Homo sapiens: one gene and its partners. The protein of the gene in region 1 interacts with the protein of each later gene in a pairwise test. Each region holds a gene or a part of one and is shown on either strand. Other genes may lie near its edges.

Region 1 (2,179 bases):
GGGTGAGCAGTGCCCTCACGCCTGCCATCCCGAACTGGGCATATGCTTCTCCTCAGATCCGCGTTCCAGCCTTCCTGGACCTGTTCATGCAGTCACTCTTTAAACCAGGGGCTCGGATCAACCAGGACCACAAGCACAAATACATCCACATCTTGGCGTACGCAGCAAGCGTGGTTGAGACCTGGAAGAAGGTACCATCGGTTCTGGGAATTTGTGGATTTTTTAGGAGACAAATATCCTCCTCTGCTTTGATATTATTTTGGAATTTTGGCTGCAAGAAATCTTGACCCTCCCTAGTATCAGGCATGTGTTTTCTTGTGTTTCTGCGTAGAGAAAGCACTAAACGTCTCCAGAAAATGTGCGTAATGTCTCCAATGCTCTGCAAACCGTAAATTGAAATGTGACTAAAGAAATGAAACTGATTTCCGTAAGACATGGACAAACACTAGTCTCATTGCTTTTCAGTTTCTGTACACTGTGTGACTGTGAAGTTTGACAGCTGAATTGACTCCCAACTTAAGTAGAAATAGGGAAAGTGCTTTGCAAGAAGTGGCCGACACCAGAACACCCCGACAGCAGGGATATCTGCCCTGTCAGGCTCACCAGCTTGTGTGTGTGTTTTCAGAACAAGCGAGTGAGCATCAATAAAGATGAGCTGAAGTCAACGTCAAAAGCTGTCGAAACCGTTCACAATTTGTGTTGCAACGAGAACAAAGGGGCCTCTGAACTAGTGGCAGAATTGAGCACACTTTATCAGTGTATTAGGTAAGCAAAACGAAACTCAGTTCTTAAATCAGTCCTTTGGGGAGGAGGTCGTTTGAGTTTTCATATTGAAAGCTCAAATAACAAAAGCTTCAGCGATACTTGTTCATTTTATTTATTTTTTCATTTTTAAACAGTATGTAGGGAACTTTAAACAGCTTTAGCAGCATGAGTAATTTTCAGATGTTTATTTGCCAGAAGTCTGTTGAGTACAAATTAGGCTAAGTAAAAGATAGCCAGAGTTAACAAAAATTGATTTGAAGGGTCTATTTATAGGTAAAGTTATGCCCACAAAGTATTGCTTACATAGAAATGATTTGTGATTATGCCAATCATATAAATAGACGTGTCCTAGAAATAGTGTGTCCTCTTAGGCATGTCTTTCCCCTAATAATTTATACTAGGGATGAAGAAAGAGTTTGCTAAATAAAGGTAAACTTCAACCCAGTCCACCAAACTCACTGAGTATCACTCATTAATGATCTTTTCCTTTCGATAAGTGGTTTAAAGTGAGCAGAGAATTGAACTCTGCTTCTTGCACCGCATGTTGAGTGGCTGCTGATCCATTCACACTATTTACTAATAAGCAGAGCTTACGCCAGGCACAGTGGCTCTGGCCTGGAATCCCAGCAATCTGGGAGGCCAAGGCAAGAAAATAGTTTGAGCCCAGGAGTTTGAGACCAGTCTGAGCAACATGGTGGACCCTCTCTCTACAAAAAATTAGCTAGACATGGTGGCACTCACCTGTAGTCCCAGGTACTCGGGAGGCTGCAGTGAGCCATGATTGTGTCATTGTACTCCAGCCTGGAAGACAGAGTGAGACCCTGTCTCAAAAAAAAAAAAAAAAAAGGGTTGGGGGGCGTATTGAAGGGTGAATGATGGAGTCATTTGAGTTTGTTTTTAACTTTCCTTTAATGCTTTTCTAGCATATTTTGTGTTTTAAATTGTTTTTTAAAGGAAGCATTCTGCCTTAACTGTAGGTTTCCAGTGGTAGCAATGGGTGTGCTGAAGTGGGTGGATTGGACTGTATCAGAACCAAGGTACTTTCAGCTGCAGACTGACCATACCCCTGTCCACCTGGCGTTGCTGGATGAGGTAAGAGGGCGGAGAGCTGTTCACAGCCTACACAGTGTCTGTCTCATGCTGTTTACGTTGGCATTAACATTGCATCTATTCAGTGAGTTTAGAGGATACTCTTCTCAAAAATAGTTATTTCTGTCCTGAGGATTTTCCTCTTAAGGACCTAGCTTCATTGACTGCAGAAATTTCTTAACCTCAGTCAAGTGTTACTGGAAGCTGATGGCCCTGGCTTAGGTGTCAGGACCTTCTTCCACAGTGATAAGCTCTTTGGTGGCTGTGACAGTGCCCAGTTTCTCTGTGTGCTGAGCGTGACCACACTGCTCAGCGAAGCTCCCTC
Region 2 (3,500 bases), on another chromosome or scaffold:
CTCCCCACTTTGCCCTCTAGGCCTCTGTCTCCTTTTTTCTGACTTGAGGATGATAGTGGTATTAATATCCAGCTCACAGAATTGTGATGAGCAGTACATGAAATGCATGGAAAGCAGTTAACACAGCATTCCCTTCCCCCTCCAACTTCTCCTGGCTGCAAATTAATCACCTCATCTGCATCCTGGGCCTCTTTTGAATGCACATGCTGTTAGAGCGCTTCTCACATTGTATTAAAGTTAGTCATTTATGATTCCATTTTTCCCACTGACTGTAGGTTCTCAAGAGTAGGGTGTACCATATTTCTTTTACAACCCCAGCACCAAGCAAAGCACCTGCTACTTCGTCGGTATTCATTGTTCCGGCTATGAAAGCTTAGACTAGGAAAGGATCTTGGAACAGTCTGGTCCACTGGTTCCTGAATGCCCGACCGTGGACCTGCAGGAGCAGAATCACCCAGAAGTGTGTTGAGAAACAGATTCCGTAGGCACATCCACAGAGACAGAAAGTGGATCCTTGGGCCTTGGAGTTGGGGTGGGATGGATGGGAAGTGACTGCTGATGAGGATGAGGTTTATTTAGGGGTTAAGGAAAATGTTCTAAAGTTAGATTGTAGTGATATTGCACAACTCTGTAAATACCAAAACCATCGCATTATATGTTTTAAACAAGTGAACTTTATGGTATGTTAATTGTATCTCAGTAAACCTGTTAGGAAAAAAAACAGGCCGGGCGCAGTGGTTCATGCCTGTAATCCCAGCACTTTGGGAGGCTGAGGCGGCTGGATCACGAGGTCAGGCGATCGAGACCATCCTGGCTAACACGGTGAAACCCTGTGTCTACTAAAAATACAAAAAAAATCAGCCGGGCATGGTGGCGGGCACCTGTAGTCCCAGCTACTCGGGAGGCTGAGGCAGGAGAATGGCGTGAACCTGGGAGGCGGAGCTTGCAGTGAGCCGAGATCGCGTCAGTGCACTCCAGCCTGAGCAACAGAGCAGGACTCTGTCAAAAAAAAAAAAAAAAAAACAGATTCCAGAGCCCTACCCCACTTACTGGGGGAAAAACTCTCCCAGAGTATAGCATAAGAATCTGCTTTTTAAAATAAGCTTTCCTGTGATTCTGAAGCAGAGCTGGGCTGGAGAACCACTGGCCTGCTTTTCCCACCGTGAAGAACACTGTCCTTAGCATCCCTGACAAACGATGGCGGAGCCCGTTCTGTGCCAGATGCTGAGCCATGGCTGGTGTGTGCTGCTCCGCAGGCCTCTGGCGGAGCCCATTCCATGCCAGATGCTGAGCGATGGCTGGTGTGTGCTGCTCCACAGGCCTGGTGGAGCCTGTTGTGTGCTGGACGCTGAGCAATGGCTAGTGTGTTCTGCTCCGCAGGGAGCTGACTCCTACTTGTCTGTGACTCCCATCGATCAGTTCTGCCTTCAGGTAGCAAAACAGAACGGATCTTCCCTGCCTTCTGCTTGTCAGCCCTTCTGCTGCTGGAAACAGCTGCCTGCTCCTTGACCACACTGTCCCAAGAGGCTGCGATGACGTCCAGCTTCTTCACTGGTCAGTGGCCCTCTGGTCATGCCCTCCGTTCACACAATCCATCTTTCCGTCTGCACTCAGAATCAAATGCAGGAACTTGGATGTGGTCTACCCAAGTCCCTAGACCTAACTGTCACCCACGCCATTTCAGTCGGTGTAGCTGGAAACACTGGTAGCTTTTGAGGGGCACCAGGTCACTGGCTTATGTTGAGATTGCTGGTCATCCAGACCTGCCCCCTACGCTAATCATACAGTGATTTTTCTTTTCCCAGATTTTTAATTTGAAAATGTACATACATCCCCCCAAATTGGAAAAGGATACGTTGGACACCTGTATTCCTTCTACTTAGGTTCAGCTGTTGCTGCTCTGGAATATTCTCTCTCGCGCACATGCGCTCTTTGTGTGCGTGTGTACCGTACATCCCAGCGACTGTGACAGCTCAGAAGACATCAGCAGGCCTGTCCTGAGAATGACATTCTCCTCCACAGCCACAGTGTCATTATCATACTGATTACACATCATAGTCATCCCATAATGTCACCTGAATGATAACATTATGGGAGAGATTCAGATGTAAGCAGCCACGCCCCTCCTGTGGGAACTCAGGCCACACTTGAATTCCACATGTCACTGTGCAAAGTGACTTTTACTCTGTGGGGATGTCAGTGATCCAGCCTGCTGGCTTCTCTGTGAACCCAAATTCTGTTATCAGAATGGACCCTCCCCACTTTGGGTCATGGGCAGATTTGATCAGTTTCCCCATTGAGTCATTGATGAAGATGTTGTGAGAATGATCCCCAACCCTCTGTGCTAATACAGAGCACTCCGTCTGCTTTGGTGTGTTTAATTATTGATCCAGCCACAAGTGAGGAGTGGAAGTTGTGATTTGAAAGCTGTCACCAAGAGATTTGGGGGATTCAGTAACAAAACTGCAGGAAGGTAGACAGGTCTGCAGAATGTGGACATAGTGGGAAACGTCTTCACATTAAGGGCAGTGTGACTAAGGAAAACACAAGGTTAGGAGACTCAGGCCTGCCATGTTGTGCTCTAAACTGCAGCCTCTGCCTCCTGGGTTCAAGCAGTTCTCCTGCCTCAGCCTCCCGAGTAGCTGGGATTACAGGCATGCGCCACCACGCCCAGATAATTTTGTATTTTTAGTAAACACGGGGTTTCTCCATGTTGGTCAGGCTGGTCTTGAACTCCCAACCTCAGGTGATCGTCCGCCTCGGCCTCCCAAAGTGCTGGGATTACAGGCGTGAGCCACCACGCCTGGCCAACACTGTGTCTTCTTTAAGCCTCCAACAACCCATGGAGGGGTGGGGTGGGGCATCGGCTTCAATACACAAAGGAGGAGACACCAGGAAAGCAAGGGGCAGGCAGAGGTGATGCAGCCAGCAGCCTTAGCCTTGCTTCTGATGAAGACCAGGTCCTGGGGGGCTCCCGCGGACCTGATCCCAGGGAATCCTCCTATGGACCAGGTCCCGGAGGCTCCTCCTATGGACTAGATTCCAGGGAATCCTTCTACAGTCTAGGCTTCAGGGGCTCATCCTATGAACTAGATCCCGGGGAATCTTCCTATGGACCGGGTCCCGGGGAATCCTCATACAGACCAGATCCCGGGGAATCCTCCTATGGACCAGGTCCTGGGGGCTCCTCATACAGACCAGATACCAGGGAATCCTCCTATGGACCAGGTCCCAGGGGCTCCTACTATACACATCAGGTCTGGGAGTTGGGGCTCCTCCAGTGGACCGGGTCCGGGGTGGGGGTTCTCATATGGACCGGGTCCCAGGGGGCTGCTGCTATGGACCAGGTCCCGGTGGGGGCGGGGTGGGGGTGCTGTTGCTACAGACCAGGTCCCGGGGGAGCTGCTGCTACGGACCAGGTCCTGGGGGGGTCTGCTCCTATGGACCAGGTCCCGGGGGTACCTGCCCACCACCAATTTGCAGGGTACATCTTCTAGTTC
Region 3 (2,611 bases), on another chromosome or scaffold:
TGCTCTATGGACTCAGCAGCAGCAGGAAAGGTGGGCGGCCTCATGTCAGGGAGGAGATGGACTGAAGCAACAGCAGTTTGGAGCAGGGCTAGCCCTGCAGCAGGACTTCCTGACACCATGGGGGTCTGGCCTGCCTGAGTCACCCTCCTCTTCCCCTAACAGGGCATCGTGAAGCGGGATGAGCTGGTGTTCCGGATGGTCCGTGGCCGCCGGGTGCCCATCCTTATGGTGACCTCAGGCGGGTACCAGAAGCGCACAGCCCGCATCATTGCTGACTCCATACTTAATCTGTTTGGCCTGGGGCTCATTGGGCCTGAGTCACCCAGCGTCTCCGCACAGAACTCAGACACACCGCTGCTTCCCCCTGCAGTGCCCTGACCCTTGCTGCCCTGCCTGTCACGTGGCCCTGCCTATCCGCCCCTTAGTGCTTTTTGTTTTCTAACCTCATGGGGTGGTGGAGGCAGCCTTCAGTGAGCATGGAGGGGCAGGGCCATCCCTGGCTGGGGCCTGGAGCTGGCCCTTCCTCTACTTTTCCCTGCTGGAAGCCAGAAGGGCTTGAGGCCTCTATGGGTGGGGGCAGAAGGCAGAGCCTGTGTCCCAGGGGGACCCACACGAAGTCACCAGCCCATAGGTCCAGGGAGGCAGGCAGTTAACTGAGAATTGGAGAGGACAGGCTAGGTCCCAGGCACAGCGAGGGCCCTGGGCTTGGGGTGTTCTGGTTTTGAGAACGGCAGACCCAGGTCGGAGTGAGGAAGCTTCCACCTCCATCCTGACTAGGCCTGCATCCTAACTGGGCCTCCCTCCCTCCCCTTGGTCATGGGATTTGCTGCCCTCTTTGCCCCAGAGCTGAAGAGCTATAGGCACTGGTGTGGATGGCCCAGGAGGTGCTGGAGCTAGGTCTCCAGGTGGGCCTGGTTCCCAGGCAGCAGGTGGGAACCCTGGGCCTGGATGTGAGGGGCGGTCAGGAAGGGGTACAGGTGGGTTCCCTCATCTGGAGTTCCCCCTCAATAAAGCAAGGTCTGGACCTGCCTTCCCAGGCCCTTCTGTGGGGGTGAAGGTGGGGAAGGCCTGCGGCGCCCAGATCACTGCCTTAGCAGTAGTCTTGCCTGTTCAGTGCAAGGGGCAGGTTTTGGGGGGAGGAATTCTTAGCGCAAGGACGGGCCTCAGCCCTGTCGCCTCCAGGGGGCCGCTGACCCAGGTGGGGAGAGGGCAGAAGAAGGGTGGGGGACGTGGGCAGGCCAGGCTCACAGGTGGAAATCAGGGATGCAGGGTGGTGCCCAAGCCAGGTCCTGCAGGAACCCAGGCCCAGGGAGGGACCCAGACACTGGTGAGGCGGGGCAGGGGTTCCTGGAGAGAGGGCAGCGAGGATCTCTATCCTGGCCTGGGGATTATGAACATAGGTAGCCGGGGCAGGGCCCTGGGTGGGACTGTGGCCTCCACTGGCCTCACCAAAGTGCCTGGGCCCCAATCCTTCTCCATGCCCAGGGGCCCCAGGTGGGCCAGACCTCTGGCCTGTTCCTCAGCCCTACTCATGGGGACATTCAGGGACCTCCAGGAAGTGGGCGGGGGAGCATCCACCCCTGCTAGCCGGCAGCTGTGGCCCTGATCAAATCAGGGGCTGGGGAGGGAAAGTGGGTCCATTGAGGTGGCCCTGCTCCATCAGCCCCCTACGGGACTTGTGTTCATTACAGTGAGGGGGTGCTCCCACTGTCTCCCGGCCTCCCTAATGCTCCCTCTGCTGCAGGGAGAAGGGTTCCAAGATCACAAAATGTCAACAATGCTGGCCTCCTGGACCAGACCCCGAGGCTCTAACAATGCACTCTGAGATCCCTACCCTTGCCGTTGGTCTCTGTCGCTGACTCGAGGCACCTAACATCCATTCACACCCAACACAGGCCAGCGACTTCTGGGGCTCAGCCACAGACATGGTTTGTCACTGTTGAGCTTCTGTTCCTAGAGAATCCTAGAGGCTTGATTGGCCCAGGCTGCTGTGTGTGCTGGAGGCAAAGAATCCCTACCTCCTAGGGGTGAAAGGAAATGAAAATGGAAAGTTCTTGTAGCGCAAGGCCTGACATGGGTAGCTGCTCAATAAATGCTAGTGTGTTATTTCATCTTCTGAGTCCTGTGGAGTTGGTAATGATTCCCATTTCACAGATGAGGAAACTGAGGCTTGGCAGGGGTGAGAAATTTGCCCCAGGCCACACCTCCCAGCAGATCTCAACAGTGGTAGAGCCAGGCTTGAATCCAGCTCTGCCAGATCCCAAAGTAAAAGTTCTCAGCTGCCTCACACTTGGCAGGGGGGTGGGGTGGGGGTGGGGGGTTACTCTGGACAGAGAAGGGTCTAGGATCCCAGGGTGATAAGGTCACTGGGCTGGGGTCTGGGACAGCCTGGGAATGGGTGGGCAGGCACAGCTGGGCTGTGATGGTGGCTCTGCTGCACAGTGGGAGGGGGCCCTGGCAGGGCAGTGGGTGGATGGGGTGTCTTCCAGGCCTGGGGTGCTTTTGGAGCGCTTATGGGGATGGGCTGCCCCGAGATGAGGCTGGGCTGGGGTGGGGTATCCAGGCAGGGGGAAAGGCAGAGCCTTGGCCGGGCAGAGTGACCAGAGCATCC
Region 4 (3,500 bases), on another chromosome or scaffold:
TTCTGTCAAAGTATTTGTCTATCCTTTCATAATGCAGCATTTATTCCGATCTGGCATTTAGGATGTAATTATTAAGGTAATGAAAATGCCTTATATCTTTTCAATGAAGGTTGCCACAGTTACCAGACTATTCTTTCACTCTTTCTGATATGCAAATGTATTTGTAGACCATGAGAAATGAAAGTATACATAGGAGGGTTGTAGTATAATTGCTCCCCTGTGAAGAACATTGTTAACAGCTCCCTGCCAGTTTTGAAGGTCATTTCCTCGTAAATGCAGATCTGGTCTACTCATCTGTTTTTCATTCATCTGTTTCATTTATGGAGATACATATATATATATATATATAATATATATATATATATATATATATATATATTTACCACATTTATCAGCTTACTTTGTTATTTGGAGAAAATAGGGAAAATTAAAAAATGAAAAGATAACTAATATCTTTGAACTCAGTATACTGAAGGAGTCATTTACGTGCTTAGGCATGTAATATCCTAAGGAATTTTTATGTTTTTAAGAAACGGGATCTTGCTATGTTGCCTAGGCTGGACTTGAATTCCTGGGCTGAAGTGATTCTCTCGCCTCAGCCTCCCAAGTAGTTGGGACTACAGAAGTGCACCACCATGCCCTGCTTATAAGGAATAGATTATTTTATTATTATTATTATTATTTTTGAGGTGGAGTCTCGCTCTGTTGCCCAGGCTGAAGTGCAATGGCGCAATCTAAGCTCACTGCAACCTCTGCCTCCTGGGTTCAAGCGATTCTCCTGCCTCAACCTCCCGAGTAGCTGGTATTACAGGCACCCACCACCATGCCTGGCCAATTTTTGTATTTTTAGTAGAGACGAGGTTTCACCATGTTGGCCAGGATGGTCTCTATCTCTTGACCTCGTGATCCACCCGCCTCGCCTCCCAAAGTGCTGGGATTACAGGCATGAGCCACTGCACCCGGCCAGGAATAGATTTTGAACTATCTTTCAGCTTATAATAGTTTATAAATTATGAGAATATATATTGCAACATTTCTAATAGAAATATGTGTTGAAAAAATACCTATTTTCAAGTCAGAAATGTTAATCAGTTTTTTGTGATTACTGAAAGGTGAGCTACTCTAGAAATGAATTTGATTTTACTGAGAGACATATTAAAATAATGGATTAAGCAGCCAGGTTAAATTGTGCAGTTAAATAAGATACTACCATAAATAGAATGTGTGTGCAGGGGCATTTCCATAGTATAACCAATATTTGGATTTGATTGTGGCTCAACCACTTAGTAGCTGTGGTAGCTAGGGTGAGAGAGGGAGGGAGAGAACAAATGTATTGAGCCCTGTGCTTGCCAGGCACTCTAGAGTTTATAATAGATTAAGAGAAAGCTATAAATCATAAACCCTAAGAATTATCACATCTAGTTCGATGCCTTACATAGTTTTAATTCAATAAATATTTGTTCTAATTTGTTTGTGCTACATGATTGCTATGTTAACTTCACTTCAAATTTTCTTATTCCTGAAAACAATAAACAGTTCTAACACCTGTATAACTCTTTATAGTTTTAATCCATTCCATTACAAACCGTTTTGCTGTGTGACCCCTCTCCCGGGTGAGAAGTACAGTATGTTAGTGTGGTATTTATGAGGTCTTTGAGGTATTTATGAAGTCAATTTCTGCAATTATCCTTTGTTGAATTAGTGGAGTGCCAGTTGGTATAGCTCCTATGACTTTTTGGTTTGTCTCTTAGGATTTCAAAACTTTCAGGTCCCCCTGCCTCCATCTCTGCAAGTTTAGAGGGCTTAGATCAAATGAATACTGTGTGATGCAGTACTTCATGGAGTGTTAGAGTTCTGCCAGAATTAGGATTTTGGATGTAGGGATCACCATAGCTACAGAAGTTTCCTTCACACTTTTCCCCTTAGTACCCCATAAAAGAGGAGACAGACCTCCTCACAGCCTCATTTTCTCACCTCTTGCTCCAAGAGGAAGTGGACCATGCTTCCCATCCTGTTTCTAGTTATATCTATTTTAAGTTGAATTCACCTTTGATAGCCTCATCTATAACATCCTGTCTGACTCTGCGAGTTGCTCGTCTCTCAAATGTGTCTAGTTAAGGCTTGTACTAAAGAAGTGAATATCATGGAGGATTGGCAGCAACCTTATAGCTTCTGTTTCTCACTTCTGTAGTGCCCAGGAAGGACAGTGCTGCTTTCCTGGAGGCCAGGTGATGGTTGTTGCCCCTGTTTTCTGGTCTTGACTTTTTGGGGCTTAGGCCAACCACCTCAGTGGTTTTCTTATGCAGCTGGGAAATTTGAAGGGTACTAAAGCATCTCCATTCCCATGTTGCAGGGAGAATGGTGTTTCCCCTAAGACAGCAAATCGCCAATTCATATGTCTATCCTAGCAAATGAAGCAGGTCTTCCATTCCTTTTTAAGACCCTAGACCCTGGTGACCAATAAAACTCTTTGGACTTTTGGCTAGACATGGTGGCTCATGCCTGTAATCCTGGCAATTTGGTAGGCTGAGGTGGGAGGATCACTTGAGATCAGGAGTTTGAGACCAGCCTGGTCAACATGGTAAAACCCCCGTCTCTACTAAAAATACAAAAATTAGCCAGGTGTGTGCTGTTACATGCCTGTAATCCCAGCTGCTCGGGAGGCTGAGGCAGGAGAATTGCTTGAACCCGGGAGGTGGAGCTTGCAGTGAGCCGAGATAGCACCATTGCACTCCAGCCTGGGTGGCAGAGCAAGACTCTGTCCCAAAAAAAAAAAAAAAAGTCTTGACTTTTACAAGCACTGTAAATACAGGTAGAGCCAAAGATAAACCAGGGGGAACAGAGGGTCTAAGTTCACATACTCCCAACCTCCAGTTTCTCCATCAGGCTAAAACTGTCTCAGAGAAATTTAAATTATGGACCTTTTGCCTCCCAAGGTCAACATGTGATCTTCATTATTGTTGTCAACATTTTGACCAAGATAGGCCCCTATATTGGTCTTTCAACAGTTGTAATTGTTGTATTATTTCTAAAGATTGTGTTTTACTTTTGTGGTCTTACCAACTTTCTAGTATCATATCCTAGATTTGGGAGGCAGGAACTTGTAAAGACTCTTAGGTTCAAATTCCCCAGGCTTTTGCCTGCTACCGTTAGACTAAACACAAACTTGTGTGAATCAAGTTCTCTAAAGAGATCCTTCCGTGCCATGCTCATGAAGGCAAAATAATTGGGCCACATGCTTGGCAACCACTGAGTTTGTGTACAATAGCTCCATTCACTTGTCTACAGAAAACACCCCTTTGACAGTGATTATAGCTTTCAACCCCCCACCCTTCCACTTCTGACTCCCCGAATTACCATGACCTCATCTGCTGCTTCGTATTTAGAGGTGCTCTGGACCACTCCAGAAGTGCCTAGAACTCATTCCTGTGTGTTAAAGATCAGTTCAAAGCCTCAGACAACCACTGCCCACCAAGAAAAACCATTCAAAATCAGGACCA

What was found. The genes of interacting proteins can lie anywhere in the genome.
Region 2: the proteins of NELFCD (region 1) and ENDOV interact in a two-hybrid assay, tested with the Homo sapiens proteins (one large-scale study listed by IntAct).
Region 3: the proteins of NELFCD (region 1) and HDAC11 interact in a two-hybrid assay, tested with the Homo sapiens proteins (one large-scale study listed by BioGRID and IntAct).
Region 4: the proteins of NELFCD (region 1) and FRMD5 interact in a two-hybrid assay, tested with the Homo sapiens proteins (one large-scale study listed by IntAct).

What each region holds. Positions count from the first base shown.
Region 1 is NC_000020.11:58,991,256-58,993,434, forward strand, and holds part of NELFCD (negative elongation factor C/D), read left to right. Parts: intron 1-56; coding exon 57-191; intron 192-625; coding exon 626-765; intron 766-1,742; coding exon 1,743-1,857; intron 1,858-2,179. UniProt on the Homo sapiens protein: Essential component of the NELF complex, a complex that negatively regulates the elongation of transcription by RNA polymerase II.
Region 2 is NC_000017.11:80,418,167-80,421,666, forward strand, and holds part of ENDOV (endonuclease V), read left to right. Parts: intron 1-1,251; exon of another isoform or gene 1,252-1,327; intron 1,328-1,380; exon of another isoform or gene 1,381-2,107; intron 2,108-3,500.
Region 3 is NC_000003.12:13,504,306-13,506,916, forward strand, and holds the end of HDAC11 (histone deacetylase 11), read left to right. Parts: intron 1-162; coding exon 163-378; 3' UTR 379-2,111; downstream 2,112-2,611. UniProt on the Homo sapiens protein: Responsible for the deacetylation of lysine residues on the N-terminal part of the core histones (H2A, H2B, H3 and H4).
Region 4 is NC_000015.10:44,188,772-44,192,271, reverse strand, and holds part of FRMD5 (FERM domain-containing protein 5), read left to right. Parts: intron 1-3,500. UniProt on the Homo sapiens protein: May be involved in regulation of cell migration. May regulate cell-matrix interactions via its interaction with ITGB5 and modifying ITGB5 cytoplasmic tail interactions such as with FERMT2 and TLN1.